Linked DNA regions of Homo sapiens. The protein of the gene in region 1 purifies or fractionates together with the protein of each later gene. This does not show direct contact. Each region holds a gene or a part of one and is shown in the gene's direction. Other genes may lie near its edges. The genes, in order: PHETA2 and INPP5B.

Region 1 (2,980 bases):
CAGCTGGGGCCTGTTTCTTTGGATTTTAGAAAGCCGTGCCCAGGTCCTGCCATGCCTCCTGTCTGATGCAATCTCGTTATTCTTTTCTCGAAGTCCGCCAGTGTCCAGTTTTTTTTGCATGATCCTCACGACATCCCTTTGAGAGAAAAGGAAGGAAAGACGAGCCCACTTCTCAGGAGACTTTAGGGACCTTAGGGACACAGCAAGCGAGTAGGAGTCCCAGGGCTGGGGTCCAGGTTGCCTCTGGAGCCGGTGCTGTTCCCCAGGAGGGCACGGAACCACCTCCCTCTCTGATCTGCTGCCATCTCTCTTGCCTCACAGTTCCCGTGGGAGCCATGAAGCTGAACGAGAGGAGTGTAGCCCACTATGCACTCAGCGACTCCCCAGCGGACCACATGGGCTTCCTGCGCACCTGGGGGGGCCCAGGGACCCCACCGACCCCCAGTGGCACTGGCCGAAGATGCTGGTTTGTCCTCAAGGGCAACCTGCTATTCTCCTTTGAGAGTCGCGAGGGCCGGGCCCCACTGAGCCTGGTGGTGCTGGAAGGCTGCACAGTGGAACTGGCCGAGGCTCCCGTGCCCGAGGAGTTTGCCTTTGCCATCTGCTTTGATGCCCCTGGAGTGCGCCCACACCTGCTGGCCGCAGAAGGGCCGGCGGCCCAGGAGGCCTGGGTGAAGGTGCTGTCCCGGGCAAGCTTTGGCTACATGCGCCTGGTGGTACGCGAGTTGGAGAGCCAGTTGCAGGACGCACGCCAGAGCCTGGCTTTGCAACGCCGCTCATCCTGGAAGTCTGTTGCCAGCCGCTGTAAGCCCCAGGCTCCTAACCACCGAGCTGCGGGCCTGGAGAATGGCCACTGCCTCTCCAAGGACAGCAGCCCTGTGGGCTTGGTTGAAGAAGCGGGCAGCAGGTCTGCAGGGTGGGGGTTGGCTGAGTGGGAGCTGCAGGGCCCTGCCAGCCTCCTCCTAGGCAAGGGGCAGAGCCCTGTGTCCCCTGAGACCTCCTGCTTCTCTACCCTGCATGACTGGTATGGCCAGGAGATCGTGGAGCTGCGGCAGTGTTGGCAGAAGAGGGCCCAGGGGAGCCACTCAAAATGTGAGGAACAGGATAGGCCCTAAGTCTGGGCCCTTTGAGTCAGGAAACCAGGGCCAGTTCTTTTTCAGGAGTTAAATGTTTACCCATTTCCAAGGTTGCGTTTTGGGAGGGGACATGGGTTCTCTCCTTCCTGCTATTTAGGCATTCTCCAGGTTCGAGATCCACCCGTGTGTCTGGAAGGGACTGCGGGACCATTCCTTCCATCCTCTTTATTTCCTGAGGTCCAGAGAAGGAAGGAGACTTAGCAGCCACAGAGCAAGACCCCAATCTCCTGACTGCACTGGCCTGACTGCCCCCTCCCAGGGGATGTTAATGAAATGAAGGAAGTGGGGAATGTCACCCGAGACTGTCACAGGCTTGCCATACCTTTGGCCTACACACCGGGCTCTAGAGCCATAATTTCCAACCTGGGGAGTCTCCTGTGCACTTAAATCCGAGGTAGGCTGCAGTATCGGCTTGAAGCTCTGACACTGTCAGAGAAAGTGGATTTATTGTGTCATAGGAGTTTCTGGGACCCAGCTCTTCCTGAGAGGGGTGGGAAGATTGGGGATGGGATCCTCACTCAGCAGTCTGGGTAGGGCCCTTTGAGGCAGAGGGTCTTCGGCCAGTGAAGAGAGATTTATTCTGCTCAGAGTGCTGGGGTCCCATCCTTTCTCCCTGGCTGCCCTGTTAACAGATGGTGCTGGACCTTGCCCCGGAAGGGGCTTGTAGCTTTTTTACGTCAACGAAATGCCCTCCTGTACTCTGTCTTCAGCAGCCAACTCCTGGAGCTGCCAAGTGAGGGGTTAAAGAAGAGGTGGGGAGGCAGTGTGGCTCCCTGGGAAAAGTCTGTTGCTTTGGTTCTCAGTCCTGGGTATTCTAGGAGCTTGGACACGGGATTGCGTTTCCTGTGCTAAAATTCTCTCTCCTGGCTGGGCTCCGGTAAACTGAAGCTGCTCGAGAAATCACCTGGGAACTCTCATAGCCGTTTGTCACCCAGGGTGTACTTGCCAGGACCTCTCCTTGCTACTCTTCCCAAAGTCGGGAGGCAAAGCGGCTGGGTCACCAGAGCCTGACCATACTGACGCTCCAGGGGGAAGACGCAGAGGCCGGGAAGAGACACCCCCTCCCAAACACATAAAACTTGCCCCTTCCTAGCCTCGGCTCCCCTCACTGGGGCCTTGGGCAGGACCGACCCGCATCCAACTAGGCCTAAGGGGTAGGCTCTGAGCCTCTTACCCCTAAGAGGCGGAGATGCGCCCAAGGCGGGCGCCCGGCCTGTTCCCCAGCCCTGCCTGGAAGCCCCGCAGCCACTGCATTTTGTTTAAACACAGATAGCACGGGCCTTTCTCTTATTGCTACAGTGTTTTGTACACGGTTAAAACACTAGTAAAGCTTTTTCGTTATTACTCCTTCCGCTCCCTGGGTTTATTTCCACAACCGGCCGCTGAGGCCTGTTCTGACGGCCGGGCGGACCCAAGACCGCGGCCACGCCCAGCAGGACGCGGACTGAGGGAGCCGGGGCTGCGCCGCCACTCTCGTGACGCCACCATGCCGGCCAGTGACAAACACCTCCCTCCCGCCGCCCCAGGAGCCGCCGGCACTGCGCGAGTGGGAGGGCTGGGCTTCTCGTGTACTCCTCAAACTCTCGCGAGGCTTCGGGCGGCTTTCTTCCCGAGGGCGGCACGAGGGCTGGGCGGTGGGGTGCGGGTGCCCGGGTGAGGGGCGGAGCTGGGGGCATGGCGTCCGGAGCGGCTCGCTGGCTAGTATTGGCACCCGTCAGGTCCGGGGCTCTCCGGAGCGGGCCTAGCTTGAGGAAAGATGGCGATGTCTCCGCCGCATGGAGCGGCTCAGGCCGGAGCCTGGTACCGTCGAGGTCAGTCATCGTTACCCGCAGCGGCGCCATTTT
Region 2 (7,629 bases), on another chromosome or scaffold:
CACTGCGAGGTGTGGGGCTGGGGCTGTGAGGGACCCAAGCCAGGGTACTTCTCAGAGGTGAAGGAGAGTGGAGGGAGGCCATTGGAAGGGGGATTGACATTCAGGTACAGTAAGGTGCAGGAACAGATCCTGAAGCGGGAGGGAGAGGAGTCAGTATCTGGGATGCTGGGAACGTGGAGCTATGGCCCAGGCCTGGCTGTGCCCCCATCCTCCTGGACATGCCTGCATTCTCTCTACCCAGCTGATTCAACTCAACGCTTCCCACTACATGGCCTGGTGCAGCTTCAGCTGTGAAGGGGGAAATGAAACCGGTCCTAGCCCTTGTCTGCTGTCCAATAGCTCAGCCCCCAGCCCAGACCCCTGCAGGCTGCAGTGCTGCAATGGAGGGCCACTCTGTTTCGTGCTCAATGAGTCAGCCTGGGGTGAGACAGCCCCACCCTTAATACTCAGCCCTGCCCCGCCAACCTGCAGCTCCCAGCCCCATTCCTCAGAGCCCCCACCTCTGACTCCCATTCCTACTCATCCACAAGCTCAGAGCCCTTCTGCACACTAACCCTCAACTTTGAACCCAGCCCTTTGAGAGGCCCTCAAATCTCAGCTCAATTTTCACCAGCCCCCCCAACCTCTATGAATATGCTAACCTCTAGGCCTTTTCTGACTGACCCCTACCTTTTTTTCTTTTGTTTTTTTGAGACAGAGTCTTGCTCTGTCACCCAGGCTTATGCAGTGGCGCGATCTCGGCTCACTGCAAGCTCCGCCTCCCGGGCTCACCCAATTCTCCTGCCTCAGCCTCCCGAGTAGCTGGGACTACAGGCGCCCGCCGCCATGCCTGGCTTATTTTTTGTATTTTTTTAGTAGAGACGGGGTTTCACCATGTTAGCCAGGATGGTCTCGATCTCCTGACCTCGTGATCCACCCGCCTCGGCCTCCCAAAGTGCTGGGATAACAGGCATGAGTCACGGCGCCCGGCCCTGACCCTTACCTTTAATGTCTTCCTAGGCCAGGCATGGTGGCTCATGCCTGTAATCCCAGCACTTTGGGAGGCCAAGGCGGGTGGATCATGAGGTCAGGAGATCGAGACAGGCCAAGGCAGGTGGATCATGAGGTCAGGAGATCGAGACCATCCTGGCTAACATGGTGAAACCCCATCTCTACTAAAAATACAAAAAATTAGCCGGGCATGGTGGTGCTGGGCGCTTGTAGTCCCAGCTACTCTGTAGGCTGAGGCAGGAGAATGGCATGAACCTGGGAGGCGGAGCTTGCACTGAGCCAAGATCTCACCACTGCACTCCAGCCTGGGCGACAGAGAGAGACTCCACCTCACCACAAAAAAAAAAAACAAAAAAAAAAACTCTGCCTTCCTCATTAGCTCCCCAAGTCTGAGCTTTCTACCTTTGGTGCCCCACCCCCTCTCAGATTCCCCACTCCTAACATCCCCACCATTCCCCAGTCCAGCCCATCCAGCACTCCCCTCCCCAACAAGCTACAAAGAGGCCTGGGGCAAGCACCTGTGCTCATCTAGGCCGTGGTGGGGGAGATGTCAGGTTGTGAGCTGCCCACACACATCATGCTCTCCCTGGGGGCAAGGCAGGGGGTCAGGGCTTTACAGAGGTGTCACAGCACTTCCCCAGGCAGTCCTGCTCTGCTCCTAGGCCTAGCCCACCCGACGATCCCAGAGGACAAGCTACATTCCATTCCACCCCTGGTGACCACCACCTTGCCAGCCCTCCAGGGAAATGTGTCTCATTCTCACCTGCCTCCTCTAGGAAGTGGAGGCAGGAATGGACAGCGTGTGGTGGATGGGGCCAGTGACACAGGCATGATAGGGCTCCAGCCTTGCCTCTGTCCAGCATTTACCACCTGTTCAGTCTGCACAGAGCTCCCAAACCTCCTCCTGCTTTCTCTTCCAGAAGAAAATCTGTGCTACTTTCTCCTGCCAAGGTGGTGACTGTTTCAAAGGGCCGAAAGCTGTGGCCATGTGCCCTGAGGGCTTGGACTTCTGTGAGGTGAGCCCTGCGATGCTCCAAGAATTAGGGAGCTCTCCTCCCTCAGAGCTGCATGGCTTTCTCCTTCTACCTGGAGTGGGTAGCTCAGCAGTAGAATCTGGCTGGAGCTAGACCTGCTGGGAGCAGCCGTGGGGTCTAGCAAGCTTGACCCCCTCAGCTCTGCATGATGCCAACACCAAAGGCAGCAACTGGAATTTTCCATACCTCCACGATGTGCCCCTTTTTTTCTGACCACCCTGTATGTTCACTAGGAACTCACTGATCTTGTGGGCAGGAAGCTAGGGGTCCAAGGAGGTTGAGCTCAACCCATGACCCACTTAACACTTTCTGCCTTTGAGTGGGGAAGAGGGGCAAGGGGAAGATGAATGGTCCCACCTCTTCTTGCAGCTGAAATGCTCCAGCTCAGGTTACATTGCAGGCTGCAGCCAGGCCTGTGAAGCAGGGACCTCCCAGTGTCATGGGGCTGTGGCCCCACCCTGCTACCAGGAGTGCTGTCAAGCCTCAACCTCAGGCAGCTGCCTTCAGCTGGATGGGAAACTTCACTTCAACCAGGCAGCTCCTGGGGCCACCAGAAACCCCCTGCACTGGGCCCTGGCTGTGGCTATGCTACTTCTCCTCCACTCTGCTCTGCTCCTATTCCTGCTCCCCTAGCTGGGCCCAGCAGAATCTGGGAGCAGCAGTCAAGAAGACCCTGTAGGATCTACAAGCCTTCAGGTCCCCCTCCAGCTCTGATTCCTGTAGTTGCATCTTTAGTAAAAGGCCTTTATCAAGCCCACAGCTCTGGGCTTAAGGCTCCTCACTTCTCCCCTTCTAGGGCCTAGGCCTGACCATGGAACCCCCCAAGGGGGCAGGCCCTCAGCCCTAATCTCAGGGAGAGGATAGGGTTTGTCTGGAAAAACAGAAAACCTCCTGCCTGACCCCCACCCAGTGGGAGGACCCCCAAATCCTGCAGGGACAGTTTCTTCATCATAAAAAGCACACAGCCCCATCTACTTTGCCCAGACCCTCCTCGCCAGGCTTTGACACTAGAGCAGGGCTGGAATTGGGGTTCCTCTGCTTCCCTGCAGTGACCCCACCCCTTGATCCTAAGGGTCTGAGTCAATCCCCTTTCCCCTCATCGTCCACATGACTTAGACACTGAATTCAAATAAACTTGAGCTCCATTTGTGCTGTGGATGTTTCCAGGAAAAGAAATGGATTGAGAAGAAGGCAACGACTGTTTCTGGAAGGGGTTTACATATGCAAAGTTGAACTGGTCATTAGGATGGCCACTTCACTTGGGGAAAGAGGAAGGGAAACTGTTCACAAGTCACAACAGTCACCCCCTCCCCAGCACTGAAGGCCCATTCCTTCAGTTTGGGCCAAAGCTTGAGAGAAGGTGTATTTATTAAAATAGTTCAGAAAGTAATTCACTAACTCCATAGATAACTGTGTGCCAGAAACTGCTGGTATGTTGATGAAAAGGCATAGTCCTGTCCAACGGGAGCTTACAGCTTAATTAAACAGCCAATAGGCCAAGTGAGAATGATCCTAGCATTCCTTATCTGAGCTGGGTGAGCAATCACAGCTCACTGCAGCCTTGAACTCCTGGGCTCAAGCAATCCTCCCACCTCAGCCTCCCAAGTAGCTGGGACTACAGGCATGCACCACCATACCCGGCTAAATTTAAAAAAATTTTTTTTTAGAGATGGGGTCTCAAACTCCTGGCCTCAAGCGATCCTCCCTCCTTGGCCTTCCAAAGTGCCGGGATTACAGACATGAGCCACTGTGCCCAGTCCCTGTGCTGGCTCTTTTTGTCCATCTTGGGTAACCTCCTTATCTTAGATGGGGAAATTGAGTCCCAAGGGAAGAAAGGTCTTGGCCAAGGTCACAAAGCCAGGCGGATCAGGGGAAGGACGTTGCCGGACAGGAACAGTGTCATACCCTTTATAAAGTGCGTTCACACCCAGTAGCCTCAAACAGCCCTGTGTGGCAGGAGGGCTGGGTGGGGCTAAGGGAGGAAATAGGGCAGTGTGTAGCGGTATAAATGGCCCAGGAGTTGCAGTCAGACTTTCAGTGGAGTCCCAGTGTTGCCACCTGCTAGCTGCAGGACTTAATGTCAAACTGCTTAACCTATCCAAGGCTCAGTTTCTCCACCTGGAAAATGGACATAATGGTTCTTCATAGTCTGGTTCTCCCTCCATTAAACCAGGAGAAGGTAGTTATTTTAGGGGAAGAGTTTCAGTAGAGGTCCGGGTTGTCTACCCTGGAGTGAGAAGAGCTGAGGATGGAACTAAGGAGAAAATAAAAATGCATTATATTCTTCCCCTAAGATAAAATGTGACCATCTTCCTTCTGGGTGGGAAGCTCTGGCCCCATGACCTAGAGGGCTGGGGATGGGAGTGAGGGCAATCATTAGAAAACCTTTCTGGTATAGGAAGCCCAGTGTACCCCAGGGCCTAAGGGGTTAACACGGATGGAGAGACTCCCCACCCCACGATTGACTCGGGCATGCTGGGACTTGCAGGCTGACTGACCACCATGTGGCGCAGGGGCTGTTGGGAAATGTAGTCACTGTCCCGGAACCTGGGGCAGCGGAGTCCCGTGCGCCCTGTGGTGACAGCTCAGGAGGTAGGTGACAATGTCAGGGAGCTGTGGGTGGGAGCAGAGCAGGAAAGCCAGGGCAGGGCTGGGCAGGAGGGAGTGGGCAAGCTGAGGGCTGGGACACCCCCCAACCCCCGGCCTGCAGCTGATGCAATGGGCCTGCTGGGGCGGGGGTGAAGGGCAAGCAGCAATGGGACACTTCCTGTCTCCAAGGAAAGAGGAATGGGACCCTCCTGAATGACAGTAAGGGGATGTTCCCTGAACCCCACATGGACACACCACTGACACCTCCCAGAGAGGCGCTAGCAGAACAAAAACTGTCCCCAAAAGAGAGGAAGAGCCATGTCCTAGGAGCAAAGGGACTAGGTCCCCTTCTCCAATCCACGTACCCCACTTCCAACAAGGATAGACCACACTCAAGAGCAACTGGATGCCCTCCCAGACAAAGGCAGTATAGCAAACTGTAGATCCCAGCGGGGCAAAGGGACTGGACCCCTATCCCTAAAAACTGAAAGGCCTATTCTAGGGAGGACAAAGAGGAGGAGGAGGAGGATCAGGCCTCCCCGGTACCATCTCCCTCTGCAAAGGCCCCTCCCTCCTGCCCCCAACCCCTCTGAGGCAGCTCCACCACCCCATGCGTAACTTGTTGACCAAAGCGGGGCTCCTATCTCCCCTCCCACAGGGTGTGTGCGCTCAGCAGGGGCCAGCATGGACCAGTCTGTGGCAATCCAGGAGACGCTGGCTGAGGGGGAATACTGCGTCATCATATCCTTCCTGTGCTAACTGCGGCCCTGAGCCTGCCCTGGCCTTGGGAAGAGGAATGGAAGGTGTCGAGGTGTCTATCCCCTCTCCTGCCCCTCTGAACCATCAGGGGAGAAGGAAATCAGTATTTACTAAGTACTTACTGAGTCCTGGACTCTCAGCCAAATGCTTTAAATACGCAGTTATCCTCCTAACTCCCTATGAAGTTGGGGATTATTATCCTCATTTCATAGATAAGGAAGGCTTAGAGAGCCTGTTTGTCTGTTAGTTCAGCACATGGTTTGAGTGCTCACCCAAGGCCACACAGTGAATCTGGGGGGGCAGGGGAACAGAGGGAAGGTGGGACAGCCTGGGTGGGGAGAGGCCTCGCCTCTGGGTTGTCTTCCCTTGACTCTGAGCCGCAGGCGGTGCAAGGTGTGCTGTGTGAGGGGGACAGCCGGCAGAGCCGCCTCCTGGGACTCGTGCGCTACCGCCTGGAGCACGGCGGCCAGGAACACGCGTGAGTGAGGGGCTTGGTCCCCACCTGTCTGGGCCATGGGGTTGTTCATCACTGCACCCTCCAGCTGAACTTCAACTGTCCCTCCAGGGCAGGGTCTGAGTCTCCTAGAATAATTATCACAATGATAGTTAATATTTTTTGAACACTATATTTTAAACCCTGCACACGTACTAACTCATAATCCTCAAGATCTAAGGAGGAAGTTTCTTGAGAAGAGACAGTTTAACATACTAGTCCAGATCTTGAGCCTCGTGGTCCAAATGCCTGGGTTCAAACCCAGGCTTTGTTACTAACAAGCCACATGATCTATTGTTTGTTTGTTTTGAGAAGGAGTCTTGGTCTTTGCCCAGGCTGGAGTGCAGTGGGGTGATCTTGGCTCACTGCAACCTCTGCGTCCCAGGTCCAAGCAATTCTCGTGCTTCAGCCTCTTGAGGAGCTGGTATTACAGAGGTGCCCGCCACCATGCCTGGCTCATTTCTGTATTTTTAGTAAAGACAGGGTTTCACCACGTTGGCCAGGCTGGTCTTGAAGTCCTGACCTCAAGTTATCCACCTGCCTTGGCCTCCCAAAGTGCTAGGATTACAGGCATGAGCCAGCGTGCCCAGCCTCACATGATCTTTTTTTTAGAGACGGGGTCTCTTTCTGTCACCCAGGCTGGAGTGCAGTAGTGCACTCATAGCTGCATGCTGGAACTCCTGGCCTCAGGTCATTCTCCCACTTCAGCCTCCCAAAGTGTTGGAATTTTAGGCATGAGCCACCGCACCTGGTGGAACCACATGATCTTGAGCAAGTTGTTTTACTCCTCGATTTGTCCATATTAAAGAGTAAAGTGAGTTAGGCCAGGTGCAGTAGCTCATGCTTGTAATTCCAACACTTTGGGAGGCTGAGGCAGGAAGATTGCTTGAGCCTAGGAGTTCGAGACCAGCTTGGGCAACATAGCGAGACCGCCCCCCCTACCCCGCCCCACCTCCCGCTCCCCGGCTCCATCTCTACAAAAAATAAGAAAATTAGCTGGGTGTTGTGGTGCATGCCTGTAGTCTCAGCTACTCAGGAGGCTGAGGCGGGAGGATCACATGAGCCGAGGAGTTTGAGATTACAGTGAACTACGATTGCAGCCTGGGCAACACAGCAAGACCCTGTCTCTATAAAAAAAAAAACAAGAAAAAAAAAACGAACACCATGGGGTGTGTAGAAAGTGCTCAATAAGGCTGGGTGCAGTGGCTCATGCCTGTAATCCCAACACTTTGGGAGTCTGAGCTGGGAGGACTGCTTGAGTTCAAGACCAGCCTGGGCAATATAGTGAGACCCCTATCTCTATTTCAAATAATTTAAAAAATATAATAAATAAAAAAAAGAAAGTGCTCCATAAATGTTGTCTAGTAACACCCACATACCACACAGAAGCAGAGAGAGAGTAATAGTTGTCAAAGGTCTCATAGCTGGTAAGTGACTCAGGGTCTAGGAGCTGGGAGGGAGGGGGCCTTAGACATTTTCTGATCCATCACCCCAGTTTTACAGATGGGAAACAGGTTCAGGGAGAGAAGTGGGTAGCTAAGGTTGCACTGTTCCTGTCACACACAGTGCTAGAATGCACCATGGTTAGATCAAACATGTGTTTGTGTTTTACTAACAATCAGGGGCTCCTGCAGATGAGAAAAGTTCTGGTTTGATGACCTCATCCATAAAACTGCAGTCTCTGATGGGCACCACAGACAGAGATGGCATGAGGAGTGTGCCTAGCCAGGGCACCACCAGCACAGTGTTAGGGACCAACGAGCG

Evidence for each region.
Region 2: the proteins of PHETA2 (region 1) and INPP5B purify together in Homo sapiens (affinity purification with mass spectrometry; 2 studies listed by BioGRID and IntAct, with this or other methods). This does not show direct contact.

What each region holds. Positions count from the first base shown.
Region 1 is NC_000022.11:42,076,959-42,079,938, forward strand, and holds the end of PHETA2 (sesquipedalian-2), read left to right. Parts: intron 1-321; 5' UTR 322-335; coding exon 336-1,115; 3' UTR 1,116-2,480; downstream 2,481-2,980. Other genes in the region: SMDT1 (essential MCU regulator, mitochondrial precursor), read left to right, coding at 2,811-2,980. UniProt on the Homo sapiens protein: Plays a role in endocytic trafficking. Required for receptor recycling from endosomes, both to the trans-Golgi network and the plasma membrane.
Region 2 is NC_000001.11:37,943,977-37,951,605, reverse strand, and holds the start of INPP5B (type II inositol 1,4,5-trisphosphate 5-phosphatase isoform 1 precursor), read left to right. Parts: upstream 1-4,552; 5' UTR 4,553-4,616; intron 4,617-4,736; exon of another isoform or gene 4,737-4,826; coding exon of another isoform or gene 4,827-4,832; intron 4,833-5,271; coding exon of another isoform or gene 5,272-5,297; coding exon 5,298-5,354; intron 5,355-5,755; coding exon 5,756-5,850; exon of another isoform or gene 5,851-5,954; intron 5,955-5,978; exon of another isoform or gene 5,979-6,327; intron 6,328-7,629. UniProt on the Homo sapiens protein: Hydrolyzes phosphatidylinositol 4,5-bisphosphate (PtIns(4,5)P2) and the signaling molecule phosphatidylinositol 1,4,5-trisphosphate (PtIns(1,4,5)P3), and thereby modulates cellular signaling events.